Regions from separate parts of the Homo sapiens genome. Here regions 2, 3 and 4 are each reported to be linked to region 1. Evidence: microRNA targets listed by miRTarBase, many of them from high-throughput screens and not tested one by one. Region 1 holds a microRNA gene; each other region holds the end of a gene's coding sequence.

Evidence for each region. Region 1 holds the annotated microRNA hsa-miR-3614-5p (CCACUUGGAUCUGAAGGCUGCCC, at 1,975-1,997, shown strand). A microRNA usually pairs through its seed, bases 2 to 8, with sites in the 3' UTR of a target mRNA and lowers its output. Matches are read on the target gene's strand: a 7mer-m8 pairs with bases 2 to 8, a 7mer-A1 pairs with bases 2 to 7 and ends in A, and an 8mer does both.
Region 2: the mRNA of B3GNT6 is a reported target of hsa-miR-3614-5p. Seed matches in the 3' UTR shown: 7mer-A1 at 1,404-1,410.
Region 3: miRTarBase lists HEATR3 as a target of hsa-miR-3614-5p. Seed matches in the 3' UTR shown: 7mer-A1 at 1,255-1,261.
Region 4: miRTarBase lists CALN1 as a target of hsa-miR-3614-5p. Seed matches in the 3' UTR shown: 7mer-A1 at 3,605-3,611.

Annotation. Positions count from the first base shown.
Region 1 is chr17:56,888,168-56,893,315 of GRCh38, reverse strand. MIR3614 (microRNA 3614) reads left to right here and starts at 1,961; the gene lies at 1,961-2,046. TRIM25 (tripartite motif containing 25) reads left to right here. Exons shown (of 9, transcript NM_005082.5): 9 at 1,087-5,148. The coding sequence ends at 1,616.
Region 2 is chr11:77,039,766-77,044,913 of GRCh38, forward strand. B3GNT6 (UDP-GlcNAc:betaGal beta-1,3-N-acetylglucosaminyltransferase 6) reads left to right here. Exons shown (of 2, transcript NM_138706.5): 2 at 1-2,208. The coding sequence ends at 941. Among named protein-coding and RNA genes, the nearest start is that of ACER3-AS1, 6.7 kb to the left of the region's middle.
Region 3 is chr16:50,104,550-50,109,697 of GRCh38, forward strand. It overlaps HEATR3 (HEAT repeat containing 3), which reads left to right. Exons shown (of 15, transcript NM_182922.4): 15 at 390-2,723. The coding sequence ends at 512. Among named protein-coding and RNA genes, the nearest start is that of HEATR3-AS1, 41 kb to the left of the region's middle.
Region 4 is chr7:71,783,083-71,788,230 of GRCh38, reverse strand. It overlaps CALN1 (calneuron 1), which reads left to right. Exons shown (of 7, transcript NM_031468.4): 7 at 329-5,148. The coding sequence ends at 456. Among named protein-coding and RNA genes, the nearest start is that of MIR3914-1, 480 kb to the right of the region's middle.

The DNA of each region.
Region 1 (5,148 bases):
CCTTTTCCACCCCCAGCTTATTCATTTTGCCTTGGGGGAAACTCGGGCTCCAGTGAAAAGTGTCATGCCCTGAGCCACCTAGCAAATGAGTGCCTCGCTTGGCTCCCTGCTGCCCACCAGTTAAAGTCTAGCCTCCTAAGCCCTTCCCTTTCTAGCCCCAACATGTTTCCCTTCTCCTGCTGCATCTGTGTTCCCAGCCACCCAGCTTCCCCGATCCCAGCACATGCGAATCCCCTTGGCACTCCGTGGCTTCACTCTCACTGTTCCCTCTGTCTGGAACAGCTTTTCTCTCTCTGTTCTCCTCTGTCTAGTTCTCATCTTCTGTTACTTGGCTCCAATTCCAGCCTGCCAGTGAAATGTTCCCCAACTGTAGCATCAGTTGCCTTGTCTCTGTGTCCCTACAGTGTGTGCTTACCCTTTTGGCAGAGTGTGAGTCTCATGGTGTTGTTACTGATGGACTTGCCTTGCTTGTTGGAGTGTGAACTCCATGAGGCCCGGCACCTTGTCTCTCTGGTTCATGGTTGTGCATCTTGTGCCAGAATCTGGTGTCAGTCAGGTGCCTGGTAAATGGTTTTGGATGGATGAATGGACAGACATACGGATGACTGATAGATGATAGATGGCTGGCTGGCTGGACAGAATGGATGGATGAATGGATGGATAGATGAGCTGATGAATAATGGATGGGTGGATAGATGGGTGGATGGATAAATGGACAGATGGATAGATAAGTGGATAGATTAATGAATGAATGAATGGATAAATGGAAAGGCAGAAGGATGGATAGATAAGTGGATAGATGGATGAATGGAAGAATGGATAGATAGGTAGATAGATGGGTATATGGATACATGGGTAGATGGATAGATGGATGGATGGATACATGGATGGATTGATGGATACATGGATAGACAGATAGATGGATGAATAGACAGACAGATGGATAGATGAGTGGATGGATGGACCAATGGGTAGATGGGTGCATGGATGGATAAAACTAGTGAATAAATAGTACCACTTTGGCAAAGGTCTAAAAGAGCACTTTGGGCCCCTTGTAATTAATTCCTTGGGGTGATGTTTTCTCAGATTACATTAAAGTCATCCTGGACTACAACACCGCCCACAACAAAGTGGCTCTGTCAGAGTGCTATACAGTAGCTTCTGTGGCTGAGATGCCTCAGAACTACCGGCCGCATCCCCAGAGGTTCACATACTGCTCTCAGGTGCTGGGCCTGCACTGCTACAAGAAGGGGATCCACTACTGGGAGGTGGAGCTGCAGAAGAACAACTTCTGTGGGGTAGGCATCTGCTACGGAAGCATGAACCGGCAGGGCCCAGAAAGCAGGCTCGGCCGCAACAGCGCCTCCTGGTGCGTGGAGTGGTTCAACACCAAGATCTCTGCCTGGCACAATAACGTGGAGAAAACCCTGCCCTCCACCAAGGCCACGCGGGTGGGCGTGCTTCTCAACTGTGACCACGGCTTTGTCATCTTCTTCGCTGTTGCCGACAAGGTCCACCTGATGTATAAGTTCAGGGTGGACTTTACTGAGGCTTTGTACCCGGCTTTCTGGGTATTTTCTGCTGGTGCCACACTCTCCATCTGCTCCCCCAAGTAGGCAGGCTGTAGGCACTTGGGCTGACTGCCTGCAGAAGTCCCAAGACCCTAGTGAAAATACAGCAGGCAGAACTCTCCTTGGATAATTCCCCAAGAGGTCCCAAGGATTGGGAGCATGGGAGGGGAGCTGGCGGGAGGGTGGGAGGTGGGATTTAGCCAGGAAAGGGGTGAGAGTGATTGTGTTGTGGGCGAGGAGGCGTTTCCACCCCCTGGTGCCTATCAGGGCAGGGTGACCTACTCCCCATTGTTCTGGAAATCTCCAGGCTGCTGGGCAGCTGGGCAGAGCTCTGGGAAGTGAAGTCATGAGTGCCCGATTCCTCTTAGAGAAAATCCATAGCTACTGTAGGTTCTGTCTTGGGCCACTTGGATCTGAAGGCTGCCCCTTTGCTCTCTGGGGTAGCCTTCAGATCTTGGTGTTTTGAATTCTTACTATAGATGTTTTTAAAGTTCCAAAGTCATTGAGTTTCAATGTTACATAAACTCCATTACCCGCATGTTGGGGCTTGATCTCCTGGTTATTATCTGTGCTTGAGGAAACACCCACAGCAGTCTCTACCCAGAACAGTTTCCTAAAGAGGCATACCCTCTTCCTCCACTGGAAAATAGTGCGTTCCCTTCCTACCCTGCACACCCATCGCCCCCACATTGATGGTTTTCAAACAGCAAACTTTTCAGCTAAAGCTTCAAACCATGATTGGAATCAGCCTGTGTTGGATTTGTGATTCAGGGTCATGGTGACCCTGATCCAGTTTGGGTGGAAATCCTTCCTAAGTATCATAAGAAGCATCTTGGCAGAGATGCTTTGGTGGCAGCCATGAGCTTTGCTGGAGGCCTTGCTTCCCATAGCCTTGGCTGTGGGGCAAGGAACTCTGCCAGGCGAGGGGGATGCTGCCCTGGATCAACAGAAGCCTGGTGGGTTTGCTCGTGTTAGAGTGTCCTGCCTTCTTACTGACAACTCTTCTCGGTGATAGCCTCTCTTCCCTGGATTGTGACATATGGAATGACAGTGCAGGTACCACCGAGGCTAGCACAGTCAAGCCTCCAGCTAAGCTGGATCCCTGAAGCCTGCTATCATGCAGACAGGCTATGCGGCTGCCTCGGACCATGCTAGGCCACTTGCTGGGGTGTCAACCTACCACCAAAGGGGTCTTTTAGCAAACCTCATGGGGAACAGGAACATTCCTGTTCATCCCTGGCCACAGGCTGCAGACCCAGCACTGGCCCTTGCGTGAGTCAGAGCCTGGGGCTGGCCCTAGCCCCTTCTACTGACTTCCTCATTTAAGCCAATTATATAAGCTCACATTGATCAGGGAGGGAGGGAAAGAGCTAAAGAGGGTCACACAAGTGGCTATTTTCCCTGCAGTGTTTCTGTGTGGTGAAAATAACCCAGTCCACTAAGGGGCGGGAGTGAATGGATGGCTGGATTTTCCCCAAGCTCCTTATAGCCTAATGTTGTCAGGATGTGAGTATGAGGAATTTAGCCTCTTATAGTGAAATGAGTCCAACTCTGGGCTTTGCTTAGAGGAGAGCTCCTGTCAGGCTTCCTATAATATGAAAAGAAGTCACCATTGGGGAACTAGAGACCCCAGACCTTTTCATATGGATATTTGAGAATGTAATGCATCTCAGGCCTCGTGCTGGAACTCTAGGGCACTCTAGGCAGGCTCAGAACACTTGATATTCCTGACAGCTACACACCTGACATGCAGGTACATACCTGATCGGTGTCATCTCCTAACAAGGATTTTCAGTTCCTCGGGAGAGCAATAATCTTTGTAGGAAAGACATCCCTGCAATAGGTGATATGTGGTCCTTAGAAGTTTTATTCCTTTACTACTTGGAAGAAAAGTTCTTTGGTGATTCTTCTCTGCTTTTGAAGATGATCAAAAGCATCTTCATTGATTTTCTGAAACGAAAGCCTTGTCTGAAACCAATTAATACTTGGGAAACAGCTGGGCTTGGAGGAGTAGAATGCCAGAGATAAATCCATGGCTCCTGCTCTGGCTCTCTTCTGCAGAAATGAGGGCAACAGTGAGGCCACTTCCCTGGCAAATGTGCAGCTCAGGATAGGGAAGCATAAGACCCTCTGTTTAAAAGAGAGTCAAGTAGGTAACCAAAGCCAAGCTCTGTGCAAGGTGCTTTGGAGTTGTAAATTGAGGAGTGCATCCTTGCTGTCTTGAACCATTCTGTTTGCAATGGTGAGACCTTACATAACCTAGCCTTGCAGGGCCGCCACACAACCCTGGAGTCCTAGAGTTGGAGGAACCTTTGTATCCATCTGACTTCTCATTTTGCAGAATATGATGAGAAAGTAGAGGATCGCTCTGTTCACCACTCTTGCTATTCCATTAGTGGGGAGATGCCTGCTAGCATGTGTGAGGGGAACACTCTGATACACTGGGAAGTATCGGAAATTCCCAGAAACACAAACATAAAATAACTCTCCTAGACCCAGGTACTGGGGACTGTCTCAGTCCGTGTGGCATGATAAATAAAAGGTTAGGATCAAGTCTTTGTATTTTTCAAGATGTGGTAGCTGATTATTCCTGTTTTAAGTACTCTGAAATTGATCTGTGATCAATAATACTAATATGTTATCTTTTACCGTATTCTGCCTCTCACTATTGATTTTAATTAGTTAGGAGTATTTGAGCTGTTATTTCTTGAGCTTAATATTTTTTTAGAGTTAACTCTTTAAGGAGATAATCATGGCTGTAGACAAGGCCAGGGCTGGCTGACGTGCCTTAGAAGGTTTGAATGCAATAAAGCGGTGTTTGGCGTTCTCCTGCATTGTAGTGCGGGTACAAAATGCTATTTGTTCGTCATACTGTTGTCAGCAGATGAGCCGCCCACTACAGACGGCTACTGCCCAGGGACCTGCCCAGGCCCCACCCAAGGGCTCCCAAGGGTTGAGATTTCTGCAGACCTATAGCCAGCACACTTAGTCCTGCCCTATATAGAGTTCCTCTTCGGGAAGCTTTTGATAAGGAATTCTCAGACCGATAGGATGTCTGTCTGGGCTTTGCTGCGGGACAGTCTAACTGTGGGGGCTAGGGGAAAGCAGGAGAGTATCGATCAAAGAGTAAGCCACACACGGATAATCAGTTACTAGGGATGGAGGTGTGAGGGTTCATTATATTATTCATTTTACTGTTGTATATGTTTGAAAATGTCTATAATAAAAAGCTTTAAAAAAAAAAAAGAAACAAAAATAGTTCAGGCCAGCAATGGGCCCTCCATGTTCAGTGGATTTTATCCTTGTTTCAATTGGGGTAGGAGTTCCAGGAGGTGTGGATTGGAGGTTGTCTAAAGAATTGAACTGGCCTTTGTCCCTGCTTCCTGGGAGGGAGACTTTCAGTCCTTGACATTTCCAGGGTAATAGGAGTGTCTTTGTTATTTGTGAGGCCATGGGATCACACCTGAGCTTATGCTAAAAGGTGGGATGACTCAGAGCTGGGGCTGGTCACCAGACAGACTGACCATGTGATTAGAGGTTTGAGGCTTTGAGTCAGCCTGACCTATGGGGCGGGGGA
Region 2 (5,148 bases), not on the chromosome of region 1:
CGAACGCCTCGGCGAACGCCACGGCCGACTTCGAGCAGCTGCCCGCGCGCATCCAGGACTTCCTGCGGTACCGCCACTGCCGCCACTTCCCGCTGCTTTGGGACGCACCGGCCAAGTGCGCCGGCGGCCGAGGCGTGTTCCTGCTCCTGGCGGTGAAGTCGGCGCCTGAGCACTACGAGCGACGCGAGCTCATCCGGCGCACGTGGGGGCAAGAGCGCAGCTACGGCGGGCGGCCAGTGCGCCGCCTCTTTCTATTGGGCACCCCGGGCCCCGAGGACGAGGCGCGCGCGGAGCGGCTGGCGGAGCTGGTGGCGCTGGAGGCGCGCGAGCACGGCGACGTGCTGCAGTGGGCCTTCGCGGACACCTTCCTCAACCTCACGCTCAAGCACCTGCACTTGCTCGACTGGCTGGCTGCACGCTGCCCGCACGCGCGCTTTCTGCTCAGCGGCGACGACGACGTGTTCGTGCACACCGCCAACGTAGTCCGCTTCCTGCAGGCGCAGCCACCCGGCCGCCACCTGTTCTCCGGCCAGCTCATGGAGGGCTCCGTGCCCATCCGCGACAGCTGGAGCAAGTACTTCGTGCCGCCGCAGCTCTTCCCCGGGTCCGCTTACCCGGTGTACTGCAGCGGCGGCGGCTTCCTCCTGTCCGGCCCCACGGCCCGGGCCCTGCGCGCGGCCGCCCGCCACACCCCGCTCTTCCCCATCGACGACGCCTACATGGGCATGTGTCTGGAGCGCGCCGGCCTGGCGCCCAGCGGCCACGAGGGCATCCGACCCTTCGGCGTGCAGCTGCCTGGCGCACAGCAGTCCTCCTTCGACCCCTGCATGTACCGCGAGTTGCTGCTAGTGCACCGCTTCGCGCCCTACGAGATGCTGCTCATGTGGAAGGCGCTGCACAGCCCCGCGCTCAGCTGTGACCGGGGACACCGGGTCTCCTGAGGCCAGTTGGGCGGCTTCAGCCCCGGGCCTCCAACCATGTCCATGCTGAGAAGGCAGCTTTCCCGCTCTGGGTACCTTACGTCCTGCCCAGCTCTGTGCACCTGAACCCCAGCTGCGCACTGAAATCAGCTGGGGTGGGGGGTGTGGAAAATGCCTACATCCTGGCTCCATCTCCCGAAGTTTCGATTTGATTAGTCTGGGGTGGACCCAGACATGTTAAGTATTTTTTAAGTTCCTCCAGTGATGCGAATGTGCAGCTAGGCCTGAGGACCACTCGGCTAGACTATCTCTTCATCCTCGCAAAGCCAGCTCCACCGCCCTCTCTGCAAGAATTCCGGGCCCCTCGCTCCCACACTCGGGTCCTCTTGAGCAGTGGAGCAAGGGAGACCTGGGAGCGTGGGAGCCAGGATCAGCGCCCCCTGCCATGTGCCTACAAATGTCAGTTGTGATTTCCACTGTTTACAAGTGAGTGGAGCTGGAGCTGGGCTGACAGTATCAGGTGGATCCCGCTTCCCCCTCCCCCAAGAAGTCAGCCAACACGCAGCTGAGGCGCATGTGGTGGCCTTCTTCCCACCACTACCCCAGTACACCGTGAGGTAGAAATCTTCACCGTGCAAAGTGGAAACCAGAGGCCCGGTCAGACAGTGACTAATCCAGGGCCGTGGCATTCCCAGACAGCACACCACTGTGGTCCCCTCCACACTCACCCCAACCAAAGCTAATGGCCTAGTTGGGTCCTGCCCGCCAATAATCACCCCCACGGGTCAGAGACAGGCTCCTTGCCGGGGTCTGGGCCTCAGGCTCAGTGGGCCTTGGACAACCCAGCAGGGAGTTCCGGGGAGTCCGAAGTGGAGAAAGGCTGGTGGGAACATGGAGGCCAGTGTTGGGGAGCCTGTGGAGGCAGGTGTGTAGAATTGTGTTCGGGAGGTGGGGGATCTGAGACCGAAGTGGACAGTGGTTAAGATTGTGGGGCCGGGCGAGGTGGCTCACGCCTGTAATCCCAGCACTTTGGGAGGCTGAGGAGGTCGGATCATGAGGTCAAGAGTTCGAGACCAGCCTGGCCAATATGGTGAAACCCCGTCTCTATTGGGAGTACAAAAATTAGCCGGCCATAGTGGCTCGTGCCTGTAATCTCAGCTATTTGGGAGGCTGAGGCAGGAGAATCACTTGAACCTGGGAGGCGGAGGTTGCAGTGAGCCGAGATCGTGCCACTGCACTCCAGCCTGGGCGACAGAGCAAGACTGCATCTCAAAAAAAAAAAAAAAAAGGAGAGTTTGCAAGGGTGGGTGGGAACTTGGTGCCTGGGGCTCTGAGAACCAGGCTGTGGTCCTGACCTCCAGCAGCTGCCAGTCATCTTGGCAACATAGAAAATCAAGGAAACGGCCTAAAGGCAGGCAGAAGTGTGTGTCAGCAAGGTCCCAACTATGTAAGATGGACACGAGGGACTCACCTTCAGGGAGGAAAGAGCCGGGGCAGAACGTCAGGAGACTGGCCAAAGGTCCTTCCCTGCCTTCAGGACGAAGACTAGACTCCTCAGTCCTGCATTTCAGGCTCCTGCCACCCGCCTGCTGCTCACTGATCCCTCCCTCCCACTGTCAGCCTCCATCCAGGTGGCAGTGCCTGCGCTTTGTCAGGCTCTCTCTTGTCTCTGCATTTTGCACAAGCTCTGACCTAGTTACCGAAATGTCCTCCAACCACCTCCATCCTGCATGTCTCTTGCACCAGTTAGGACGCCTGTCGGGGAAGCTGCCAGCTGCCCACCTGAGTCGGCTGTTCCCTTCCTCCTGGGCACTCACCTAGACTCCATTTCCCAGCACTCCGTCCCCTGAAGTTAGATGTGGCCCTGTGACTAGGCCCTCATGGATGGACGGGAGTGGATGAGGATCACTGTGGCACCTGGGCCTGCTTATGCTCTCTTCCTCCTTCCCATTCGCTGGAACATGGATGGGCCTGGGACCCAGCTCTGACTTTGCAAGTGAGGACAATGCTTCAGGCCCAAGTGGAAGTTTCTCAACTACTGACATTTGGGGCAGGACGGTTCTTTGTTGTGGGGGGCAGTCCCGTGCATTGTAAAACATTCAGCAGCATCCATGTCCTCCACTCACTAGATACCAGTATCACAGCCCAAGTCATGACACCCAAAGTATCTCCAGACGTTGCCAAACATACCCTGGTGGGAAAATTCACCCTAGCAGAGAACCGCTGGCCTAGAGGAAGGCAGAGAAACGAGGATTCCTGAGTTCCTGCACGGAGCAGAGCAGCCCGGGGACCAACCTGGAATACTCAGTTCAGACTACTGAGGAAGACAAAATAAACTTTTATGCTTTTAAAAAAAATTATGGACAGAACAATATAGACAAAAACTTTTATGATTTTTCAGCTTCTGGGGTTTGTCTACTGTTACAGCAGCCTTGCCCTGCTAGTGTTTTAGTCTGTTCAGGCTGCTGTAACAAAAATACCATAAACTGGGTGTCTTACAAACATTTCTGAAAGTTCTGGAGGCTGGGAAGTCTAAGGTCAAGGTCCCAGCAGGTTTGGTGTCTGGCGAGGGCCCATTCCTCACTGCCTTCTTGCTGTGTCACTGCATGGTGGGAGGGGCAAGCAAGCTCCCACGGCCTCTTTTACAGCGGCCCAGATTCCATTGGTGAGGGTTCTGCCATCATCACATCATCACCACGTCACCTTCAGGGCTAGGATTTCAACGTAAGAATTCCGGGGGGCCGGGTGTGGTGACTCACGCCTGTAATCCCAGCACTTTGGGAGGCTGAGGCGGGCAGATCACGAGGTCAGGAGATAGAGACCATCCTGGCTAACACAGTGAAACCCCGTCTCTACTAAAAATACAAAAAAATTAACCGGGCATGGTGGCAGGCACCTGTAGTCCCAGCTACTCGGGAGGCTGAGGCAGGAGAATGGCGTGAACCTGGGAGGCGGAGCTTCCAGTGAGCCAAGATCACGCCACTGCACTCCAGCCTGGGCGACAGAGCAAGACTCTGTCTCAAAAAAAAAAAAAAAAAAAAGAATTCCGGGGAAACATAAACATTCCAACCATAGCACTTAAGTCACCTGCTGTGTCCCCTTTCATCCCTTGTTTTTCACCAAGTAGACTGGCTGCTCCCAGAGGGAGAGGCCATGTCTGATTTACATCAGGGCTGTCACAGATTTACACAGAGGGAATCCGTGGCAAGTCCCATCACTCCCACTCCTGGAACTTGAGTAGGTCATCTCACCTCTCTGAGCCGCTCTTTCTGATAAGATTTGGCTCTGTTTCCCCACCCAAATCTCATCTTGAATTGTAATTCCCACATGTCAGGGGAGGGACACGTAGGACTGGACAGGCGGGAGGTGATTGGATCACGGGGTCGGATTCCCTCACGTTCTTGTCGTGATAGTGAGTTCTCGCGAGAGGTGATGGTTTTAAAGCGCGGCACTTCCTCATTCTCGCACACACGCCCTCCTGCTGCCCATGAAGAAGGTGTCTGCTTTCCCTTCGCCTTCCGCCATGATTGTAAGTTTCCTGAGGCCTCCTAGCCATGCTTCCTGTTAAATCTGCAGAACTGTGAGTCAATTAAACCTCTTTCTTTTATAATTACACAGTCTCAGGTAGTATTCTTTATAGGAGTGTGAAAATGGACTAATACACTTTCCACAGTGATGTTCCATGCCAGGGCCATGTAAATCCTCTGTAAACCACATAGGAGGGTACTGTCATTCTGCAGGCTTACTGGCAGCTCTGAGAGGTTGAAGGAAGCAGGAGGAGGTGGCACTTCTGTGACCTTTCTGCAGCCCTTGCCGTGGGCCTTCAGTAGCCACAGCCACTTGTCACTTGCTGATCTATTTTCTGAGCAGGCCATAACAAATACTCCTACATGCTTTTGGGGTGAATGGATGAGTGGATGAGTGCCATCTGTCCCAGTGATGTGGACTGTATCTGTTAGGACAGCAGTCCCCAACCTTTTTGGCACCAAGGACTGGTTTTGTGGAAGACAATATTTCCACAGACCAACGTGGGGGATGGTTTGGGGAAGATTCAAGTGCATTACATTTATTGTGCACTTTATTTCTATTATTATTACATGGTAATATATAATGAAATAATTATACAACTCACCATAATGTAAAATCAGTGGAAACCCTGAGCTTGTTTTCCTGCAACTAGACAGTCCCATCGGGGGTGATAGGAGACAGTGATAGATTATCAGGCAGT
Region 3 (5,148 bases), not on the chromosome of region 1:
CTTTATACCTTTGAGAGAAGAAAAACAATTAAGTATTATTACCATAGCAATGCATACTAACTAGGAAAATCAATCTGAACAGCAGACCTTTCAGAGGTTAGGGGTTATTTTCCCAATTCATGGTTTACATAATTCCTTTCTATAGTTTATATAACTCCTACCACCTGCCATTCAGTCACCTTTGTAACTATCATTTTTAATAATGCACATTCTCAGTTTATTCTTTACTTACCGAGTTCCATTTACCTTGGAAGTAAAAACATTTTTTCCAAATTCTTACAGCTATCTGCTTCAGCAAATGGTTAAATACACCCTAAATTAAATACTTTATTTAAATGAATTAATCATATCTACCAAGTCATATATGATTTTTTGTTTTTTGTTTGCAGATACGTAAAGAAGGGAGAGGTAACTATAGCACAGATCAGCTGTGTGTTCTTGACAATGTGAAAATGAATTTGCGAAGATTTATTGCTTATCAAGAAACTGTTGAGAAAAGACTGACTTCTTAAACAATCCAAAAAAGAAACCAGTTCTTCCCCCAAAGTATTCAATGCTTAGAATACTAAAAGGTTTTCTTTGAATGTATATGTTTCTGAAAGTCATTTTTTAATGATTACATTCTGTACATTCTGTAAAAACTTCAAAACCTGGCCAGGCATGGTGGCTCACGCCTATAATCCCAGCACCTTGGGAGACCGAGGCGGGTGGATCACTTGAGGTCAGGAGTTTGAGGCCAGCCTGGCCAACATGGTGAAACCGCATGCATAAGCATGGTGGCACATGCCTGTGATCCCAGCTACTCGGGAGGCTGAGGGAGGAGAGTCGGTTGAACCTGGGAGACAGAGGTTGCAGTGAGCTGAGATCACGCTACTGCACTCCAGCCTGGGTGACAGAGGGAGACCCTGTCTCCAAAAAAAAAAAAAAAAAAAAACTTCAAAACCTGTCAGAAACTCTGTTGCTGGTTTTTTTGTGTGTGTGTTTTGTTTGTTTGTTTTGTTTTGTTGTTTTTTTCTTTTTTGAGATGGAGTCTCACTGCTGCCCAGGCTGTATTACAGTGCTGCGATCTTGGCTTACTGCAACCTCTGCCATTCCAGGTTCAAGCGATTCTCATGCCTCAGCCTCCTGAGTAGCTGGAATTACAGGCACCCACCACCACACCTTGTTTTTGTTTTTGGTTTTTTGGTTTGTTTTTTTTTTTCAGTAGAGACGGGTTTCACCGTGTTGGCCAGGCTGGTCTCAAATTCCTGACCTCAAGTGATCCGCCTGCCCTGGCCTCCCAAAGTGCTGGGATTACAGGCATGAGCCACCGTGCCTGGCCAGAAACTCTTTTTTAAGTGATGAGATCTGTGTGGCATTTCTAGCGCTCTCTAAATTATGTCTCTGGCATATTTTAATCACTGGAAACTCAAAGAGTGGAAGAGTGGAAGTGCGAAGGAATCTCAGGTAGCTCTTAACTAATTCGCCAGCAGTGAAGAAACTTCAACCAATCATGTTTTCCTTGAATTTTGCAAAGAAAGAAAATCCAAAGCATTGCTTGGATGTTCTTTTAAGGCATTTTATATCAGTTGAACCTTAAACTGAAATATGAAGACAAGCTTTATAAACTAGTTTTTTGATATGAAGTATATCAATTATGTTTGCCTTTTGTGAAGAAGTAAATGAGTTGAATTTCTATTTCACTTACTAGATTATACTAATGAGCTAATGGGGTCATTGCCATCCTCCCTACTCATGACTTTGATGAGTTATTGCTGTAACATCACTTCTTGATTTAATTTGATATGGAATCAGAATTGGGAGAAGGTATTTTTAAATAAACAACTTTTTAATGGAAAGTTTTGTGTCTTACAAAATCTTTTTTAAGATACCAAATAAAGGGTTATTAGTAGAAAATGAGATGATACTATTCGTGGATATTTGTTTGCTAATGCATATTGCTTGGAATATATGTGAGACATTAAAAAAATGACAGCACGACTTTGCAGCATTACCTCTCAGTGTCTTCGAAGTACTAGGTGACAGCTGGGGCTCGAGGGAGTTTCCCTGTGCATCATTGTCTCGGCTGGGCCTCTGAACCGGCTTCATTGTCCATCCGTTTGCCTGATGAGAAGGGAAATTTGAAAATTTCTGTACAGTTGATCTCAGTTGCCCTGACAAAAGGCCCAATCCCCAGTACAGGACTTAATTTTAATTCACTGCTTCCACAGCAGCACAAAATGAGCTAGTAGTGTTAGATTTCATCTGCACTGTGATGTATTTTACAGTTTTCACCTATATGATATAGACTGTTGGGAAACCAAGATTGTTTCCCAGCCCTAAGAGTTCCTAGCCCATGGCACCAAGTAAAATAACCCAAATTGTGTATATGGTGGGAAAACAGAAATGTATACCATATACAACACCTCGCTTTATTATGGTCCTTGCTCATGAATTTTAAGGTATATATGTATGTTTAGTGATCATTTCAGCTAAATGATTGGCCCAAGCATGTCTCCTTGGAGAACGACTCTTCCAAAAAAGAAAGTATTAGAGTTCTCTCTGCCTCAATTATTTATAAAATATAATTATTTTCAAGGAGAAAAAAGTTCCTCATTCTGTTTATTCTTCCCCACAGTTTCTGACCTATAAACAATATCCAGGATATTTAGCACAGGACCTAGTATATAGTCGACTCTTCATAAATATTTGTTGAGTAAATAAATGCTGGTGATTTTCTCGTTGTTTTGTGTGTGATTTTCTGTTTTACTAAGCAAGCTCTAAAGCAGCTGTTGAATGCAGAATCATCCTTAAACACGGTAGAAGATGAGATGACACTGAAGATGTGCCATCCTAAAAATCTCTTAGATTCTGAGGCATGGATAATTGGGTCTGGATTTCTCCCATTCAACTTTACCACTCTAACGACACAAAAGAAGGGAAAACAACTCATAAATACAGCATACAGTTTTAACTATTTACATAATAACTCAATAGAGCATGCAAGTATTATTCATGGCACAGGATAATGGAGAGCTTTTTCTGTATGACCATAGGGGAAAAAAAGTCTGCTTTAAAATATACTTATTTGAAAATCACCCAGAATAGCCCGTTAGAAATACACACTGGAGGCCAAGCATTTTGGGAGGTCGAGGTGGGCAGATCACTTAAGGTGAGGAATTTGAGACCAGCCTGGCCAACATAGTGAAATCCCATCTCTACAAAAATACAAAAACTAGCTGGGTGTGGTAGCATGCACCTGCAATCCCAGCTACTTGGGAGGCTGAGGCAGGAGAAACTCAAACCTGGGAGGTGGAGGTTGCAGTGAGCCAAGATTCCACCACTGCACTCCAGCCTGGGCAACAGAGCAAGACTCCACCTCAAAAAAAAAATAATTAGCCGGGTGTGATGGCCCATACCTGTAATCCCAGCTACTCAGGAGGCTGAGGCATGAGAATCACTTGGATCCAGGAGGTGAAGGTTGCAATAAGCCAAGATTGCACCAGTGCACTTTAGCCTGGGCAACAGAGTGAGCTCTGTTAAAAAAAAGAAAGAAATATACACTGTTCAGGCATAGTGGCTCACACCTGTAATCCCAGCACTTCGGGAGTCCAAGACGGGTGAATCACTTGAGCTCTGGAGTTTGAGACCAGCCTGGGCAACATAGGGAAGCTTTGTCTCTGCTAAACATAAAAAAAATTAGCTGAGCTTGGTGGCGCACACCTGTAGTTTCAGCTACTTGGGAGGCTAAGGCAGGAGGATGGCTTGAGCCTAGGAGATGGAGGCTGTAGTGAATCATGATTCCATCCTAAGCAACAGTGCAAAACCTTTCTTAAAAAAAAAAAAAAAGGTTGGGGGCTGGGCGCAGTAGCTCACACTTGTAATCCCAGCACTTTAGAAGGCCAAGATGGGCAGATCACTAGAGCCCAGGAGTTCGAGACCAGCCTGGCCAACATGGCAAAACCCTGTCTCTACTAAAAATACAAAAATTAGCCGGATGTGGTGGCATGCCCCTGTAGTCCCAGCTACTGGGAAGCTGAGGCAGGACAATCGCTTGAACATGGGAGGCGGAAGTTGCAGTGAACTCAGATCACGCCACTGCACTCCAGTCTGGGCGGTAAGACTCTGTCTCAAAAAAAAAGGGGAGCTGGCCGGGCGTGAAGGCTCACACCTGTAATCCCAGGACTTTGGGAGGGCGAGGTGGGTGGATCATGAGGTCAGGAGATCAAGACCATCCTGACTAACACAGTGAAACCCTGTCTCTACTAAAAATACAAAAAAAAAAAAAAAAAAAAAATTAGCCAGGTGTGGTGGCAGGCACCTGTAGTCCCAGCTACTTGGGAGGCTGAGGCAGGAGAATGGCATGAGCCTGGGGGGCGGAGCTTGCAGTGAGCCGAGACTGTGCCACTGCACTCCAGCCTGGGCGACAGAGCGAGACTCCGTCTCAAAAAAAAAAAGGTGGGGAGCTGACCTGGGTGTGTTTGGCTGTGCATATGCGTCATGCAACCTGATTTTAAACTTACTGTGTATAAAGCTAAAGCAATCAAATCATATGGTTTTAGCATAAGTAAAGACATACAGATCAATGGAACAAAATTGAGTCCAGAAATAGACCCATAATTATATGATCAATTGATTTTCCACTAAGGTGCCAAGTTAACTTGATGGAGAAACAATAGTCTTTTCAGTAAATGGTGCTAGAATAACGAGTATCTATATGGAAAAAGACATACTCAAGAGTCAAAGTTTGATAAATTATTATTTATTTTTTACTAATTCATCAACTACAGTCTTGGGTGCAGCTTGCTTTGTTTTTCCTCTAAGTGCGTGATTGGGGAGAATGCAGTGATAATTAGTAGTTTGGTGCCCATGCCCTGATTCATACTAGACACCAGCAGTTTCATCCCATCACTTTAGTGTCCACAGCCCCAGTGTGCCACCACAGCAAAAAAAGCCAAGTCGCATTTAGTATTGTGAAAACAGTATTGACCTCATGACCCCCCCCCCCGAAAAGGATCTGTGGAACACACTTTGAGAACTACTGGTCTAGAAAGAGCTAGAAAGAGAAAATAAGGAGGATTGAGACGAAGTTGTGAAGAAATCTAGTAAGTGCTGGCCTGGTTGGAGAATGAACCTGAAAAGAAACACAGAAGGAGTCCCCTGAGATGT
Region 4 (5,148 bases), not on the chromosome of region 1:
ATGTCCCATATTTCCGGGCTCTGAAAGTCACTCTGGCTCTATTCTATCAGAAAATTTAGGCCTTACTCTGATCATCACATCCATCATGATTCTTGTTATAGAAGTTTTCTCATTTCATACCTTTCACCAGAAGGCATTTTGTATTATGCAGTCTCCATGGCAGTGGTCCCATAAATGCCTGTCAACTTGATTTGACCAGTCTCATCCTATAGGACTCACTGCTGGCCTGTTGAGGAAGAGTTGCAACCTATCTCACTGTGTTATTTCTCTCTTCTCTCTTCTCCCAACCCCTCTTCCTTCTTCCCACACCTGCTTCTCCCACCACCAGTGCATTCCCAGAAGCAGAACAGACAGACCTGCGTCCGGAAGAGCCTCATATGCGCCTTTGCTATGGCCTTCATCATCAGTGTCATGCTGATTGCAGCCAACCAGATACTCCGGAGCGGCATGGAGTAGCAGCCTCCCGCCAGCCACACTGTGTTGCAGCTCACCGCGCATGTGCATGCCGTGCGGGCAGACTCTTCCTCCACACAGCAGACACGGACCTATGGACTATGGATGGATGCGGACGATGGAACCGTTCAGTAAAGAACCCAAGGTTGAGTGCAACTGGGGTTGCACTTCAGCTTCATCTCCTTGGCAGGGACACTAAAGGGCTGTCTTCAGTGCTTTAATGGTTTTGTTTTCTAATGCAATAAATCGCCAGGATTTCCAAATTATTGCTTCAACCATCAGTCATAACTCTAGAGAAAAACTTCATCTTCATCTCGGAATTCCAGCAGCCATCCAGGTATAATGGTGAGAGAGCAAGAGAGAGGCATGAACACACAGTCACCTCCACTCCCCATTCTTTCAACCCAAGGGTCAACAGGAGACTCTCTGCTGAGGTCAACCCTCAGTTCCAAGAGGCTGACTTCAGGGTTGCCACAGAAGAGGGGGCTTTCCATCCCACCCTGGCTTCCTTCCTCCACCCAGTGGAGACCCCCCCAAGGCATGAGGGGAAAGCCATTAAGTGGGGTGCAGCCCTGGCGGTCTTCAGCTGCACCCCTCACCGCTTCCGTTCTTACTGCCTTTTCTAGAGGACTGCCATTGGTAGAGCTGGGGTGCTCTCAGTTTCCGTCGGCACTTGGCTTTCTGTTCCTAGAGCCCATCCCGCACCAGCATTTTGGAACCTGCAGAGAGCCTTTCTCCCAGCTTTGCCGCCTGTGCTGCCATTAGAGAAAAAAAGAAGCATAATCGTGGGCATCTCTATAACATAGACAGATATATATATTTGGCTTCTTCGTGTGTGATGTCATTCTTCCCTAATCGCTTACACCTAATATAAGCTTGTCCTCCCTCCCACACTCATCCCTGCTTCTTTGGGGCAGGGGTGAGGCAGGTTGAGGGGGGAGGGGACTGGGACTGGCGGTGAGGTTTTGATACCCACACCCAGCCATCTGGAGTCATGGAGACCCACCACGTCTCTATGCCGGATGACCTTTGTAAGTTAAGGTCCTTGTGCATCTTACCTTTCCCTTACCTTGGAGTTTGCTTTGTTAGTCTTCCCCAGCTAAAAAGAGAAATGCAATCCAAAATGGAAAGATGGAGAGATCAAACGACTGTATTTTCACATAAGATCTTCTGGCCTTCAGATTCTGCAACTGACTCATTTTCAGGAGGTTGGGGGAAAAGATGTTTATGAGTTTAGCCAACAGAACAGGTAATTTACTCCTGCCTGCAGAATACTTTTCGTTGGGGAAGAGAACTGAATCCAAGGATCTGTTTTCAACACCATTCCAAGTCTGTAATTTCCTGACTTTTCCTAGATGTCAGCCACTACTATGAATTCAAGCTTGTGTAGTCAGATTAGCCAGTAATCTCTAGATGTAATAGTTCCCTTTGTACTTTTCCAAGCTCAGGTCTTTATTTTGTAATGGAATTACCTTGCTCCTACTTCTTTTGATTACATCCTAAAACTACATGCTTCCCCCCTTCCAGTAGCGAGCCACCAGAAGCTTTCTTGTCTCTATGCAGTGGGTAGGATTTTTTGGTGCGTTGTGTGTTCCTGATCTCCCTCCCTGTCTTCCTGCTCAGCTTTCTCCCTACTGCCTTTTCAGACTTGGAGCACCCAAGGTCTCCAATGAAAGTTTTCTCATTCACCTCTGCAAGTGCTACTGGCAACAGCCTGAGGGCAGCTGTAGAAACTTTCCCTCTGTGGGAGACTATGAATATTCCTGATGAGCACAAGTAAAACTAAGGCTTCAGCCATAATATGGAGGAGGGAGCAGATGTAAGCTCCCAAGAGCCTGGGGGATCACAGGTCCCTCTGCAAAACTTCCTGGAGTTCAGCCCAGCAAGGCCAGACCAAGGAGGCAGCAACCTGCCTTTCCCCCTTACCTGCCCTGCTGCCTGCACACTGCATGCCTGCCCCTTCTGCTGCTCCTGTTGGCTGACTCACCACTGTCCCCTTAGGATTGGAATTCTCAACTAGAACCGGTCCAAATGCAGAATATTAATACATCGAACAACTTCATCCTTAATCTCTGCCCTGGGCAGTTTGCCCTCTCCCATCTGGACTTAGATGGGAGGGCATAGCAGATCTTGAAGGGATATACTTTCCTGTTTTTCCCTGACCCCCGAACCACCCAACCACATCCATAGGGGTGCAGGACCCTAAGTAGACTGGGTAGAAACCCCAGGGATGATTCTTCAAAGCCCCCTCCTCCATGAGAGGGGACTGAAATGCTGCAGCTGAGGCTGGTCTTCAGGGCAGAAAATGAGTACTTCTTTGAAGGTGGCTTTTCTGCGAGTTCTTCTGCCTCCTGCTGGAGAACAGAGACCCTTCAAGAGGTGAGGGTTAGATTTCATTGGCAGAGAGATTAGCCACTGTGCAGGAGTAGGGAGGAAAAGGAGTTCTGGAGAGGCGCCGCCATCCTGTTTTCTGGAAAGGCTGCAGGATTCCTTTCCTAACGGTGACCTTCTTCTTGCTCCCAGTGACCTGGAAGCAAGCCCACCCTCCCCAGGGGAAAATCTAGGAGAATGCATTCCTCTGCAGACTGCTAGAGAGAGATGGCAAGAAGGAAGACACAGAATTCTTTCTGACAGCCTAGGAGTTATCTTCCCACTGTGGTAACCCCCCATGTGGCACCCAGGGACTGAAGGACACAGTGCGTGGAGACGGCCCTGAGCTAGCGGCATTCCTTAGACTTCAGGAGCTCAGAGTTTGTCCCGGTGACTTGCACCCTGGCTGCTTTGCTTGGACAGTTTGTCTTGGGTATAGGGAAGCCTTCCTTGTCAGGCAGCCAACTCCCAGCCCTGTTCACACAAATTTTATGCTAGGGCCCCATGCCAGTCAGTGTCCCCATCATGGTGGCTATGAAGCTCACGGCTGAAGATTCCAGAAGGTCCTGGTCTCCCATGCCCAAGGGATGCCATGTAGCCCCAGCTGGAAGTGACTTCCGCAGGAATTGAGAGGGAATAGCTCACCCCTCATTCTGTCCTCCGGACTTAGGAACCAGTGACCTTGGCTGCCCAACTGTGTGGAGGCTGAGTGATTGACAAACACAGGTTGGCTCATTCTTGCTGCAAGAGCAGGTACCCCCCGCCGCCCCCCTGGAAAGCACAAGTGATGAGCAAGAAGGCATTTTCCTTGGGAGAGAAGGGGAAATGGACCCTGACCCCCTTGATCCCCAAAGAAGCTGCGCCCCACCTTTCCAGATACCCACAAAGCCCCCAGACAGAATCTAGCATCGGGACTATTAGCAATGGCTTCCAGAATGTGCTTGGGTCCCACGTGACTGATCTGACAAAAAAAAAAGAGGGATATTACCATGGCAACCCTTGCATTCCACCCTGAGTTTGCCAAGGCACACAAAAATAGGGAACATTTTCTTAAAGAACACTCCAATTCAGCCTGAGTGCAACCTGACTCTCTGCATCTGTATCCTGCTGGGAGAGGCAATTACCCTTAAAGAATCTGGGTGGTATCTCTGCCTTTTTGTCTGGCATTTGAACTTGTCCTTCTATTTACTCAGGAGAGCAGGAGCTACCTGTAAGCCCTGGTATCTCCCCATCCCTACTCCCAGCCCCTTCTCCCAGGGTCCAGAGCCAGGACCCCTTAATCTAGGTAAATTGACAGAAATATCATCTTGGAAGGCAAACAAGATATTAAGCCTCCAATCTTTAAAAGTATCGGTTTGCCTGTTGAGCACACTCCTGCAAGCCAAACACGTGAACTTTGGTGAACTGAGGTTTAGGTGTGGTCTTAGGCAAACCCAGTGGTTTCAGAAATGTCTGGGTGTTTTATTTGCAGAGAACAAGATGTGTCTTATGAGTCTTCTTTCTCAATACCTGCCCTGTCTCAAATCTCACTTGACAAATGGTCTACGATCTTGCAGTTATCCAAAAGAGCCTATGAAAAATGGACAGCTGCTTTTGACAATAATGCCCCTCCCAACTTCCCATTCATAGAATCATAAAGCGATATGTTTCAGAACTGAGAGAGAAAAGTTTACCTTTTATTCCAAATGCCTCGTACTCGGTTTAAGTCCAGACTCAGGTCATAAATCAAAGACAGTTTTGCACGTTGCTCTTCACCTAAATCTAGCAGTTTCCCTGAGGCCCTATGAGGGCATGGACAGAAAATGAAGGATGCAACCACCCAGGACAGCTCCCTGGTTTGGGCTGGCCTGGCCACGTGTGGTCACATGTCCTGGGATCTGTGTTTACTGTGTCCTTGCTCTCCTTCCTTGCAGAAGCTGCTAAGCTCTGCTCCTCCTAACTGCAGGTCTCAAACCCTATTGGGTCATTTTGCCACACTATTTCTCCAAAGGCCCATAGTCATTACATTTTTTACCATTTCACCAAGATAACAGGGGGGGTCTGGAATTCCCCTGCTAGGAAGGGCCCCTTTTCCTATATCACCGTGATGGTACAGATGAACTGAGATGAAACTTTTAGACTTCAGCACGTCACACATCCTGGTTGTATAACCAGGAGGTCTGCAGAGCTGCAACCCCTGAAGAACATCTGTCTTAAAAGACCTCAAATCAGAACATTCTCATTGGCCTCTTCAGTGATCCCCATGGAGCTAAGAGTCCGTAACCTAAAGGCCTTACCATAGCCATCTTCCCTCCACACCTGATTGCTCAACTGCCCCAGAAGGGG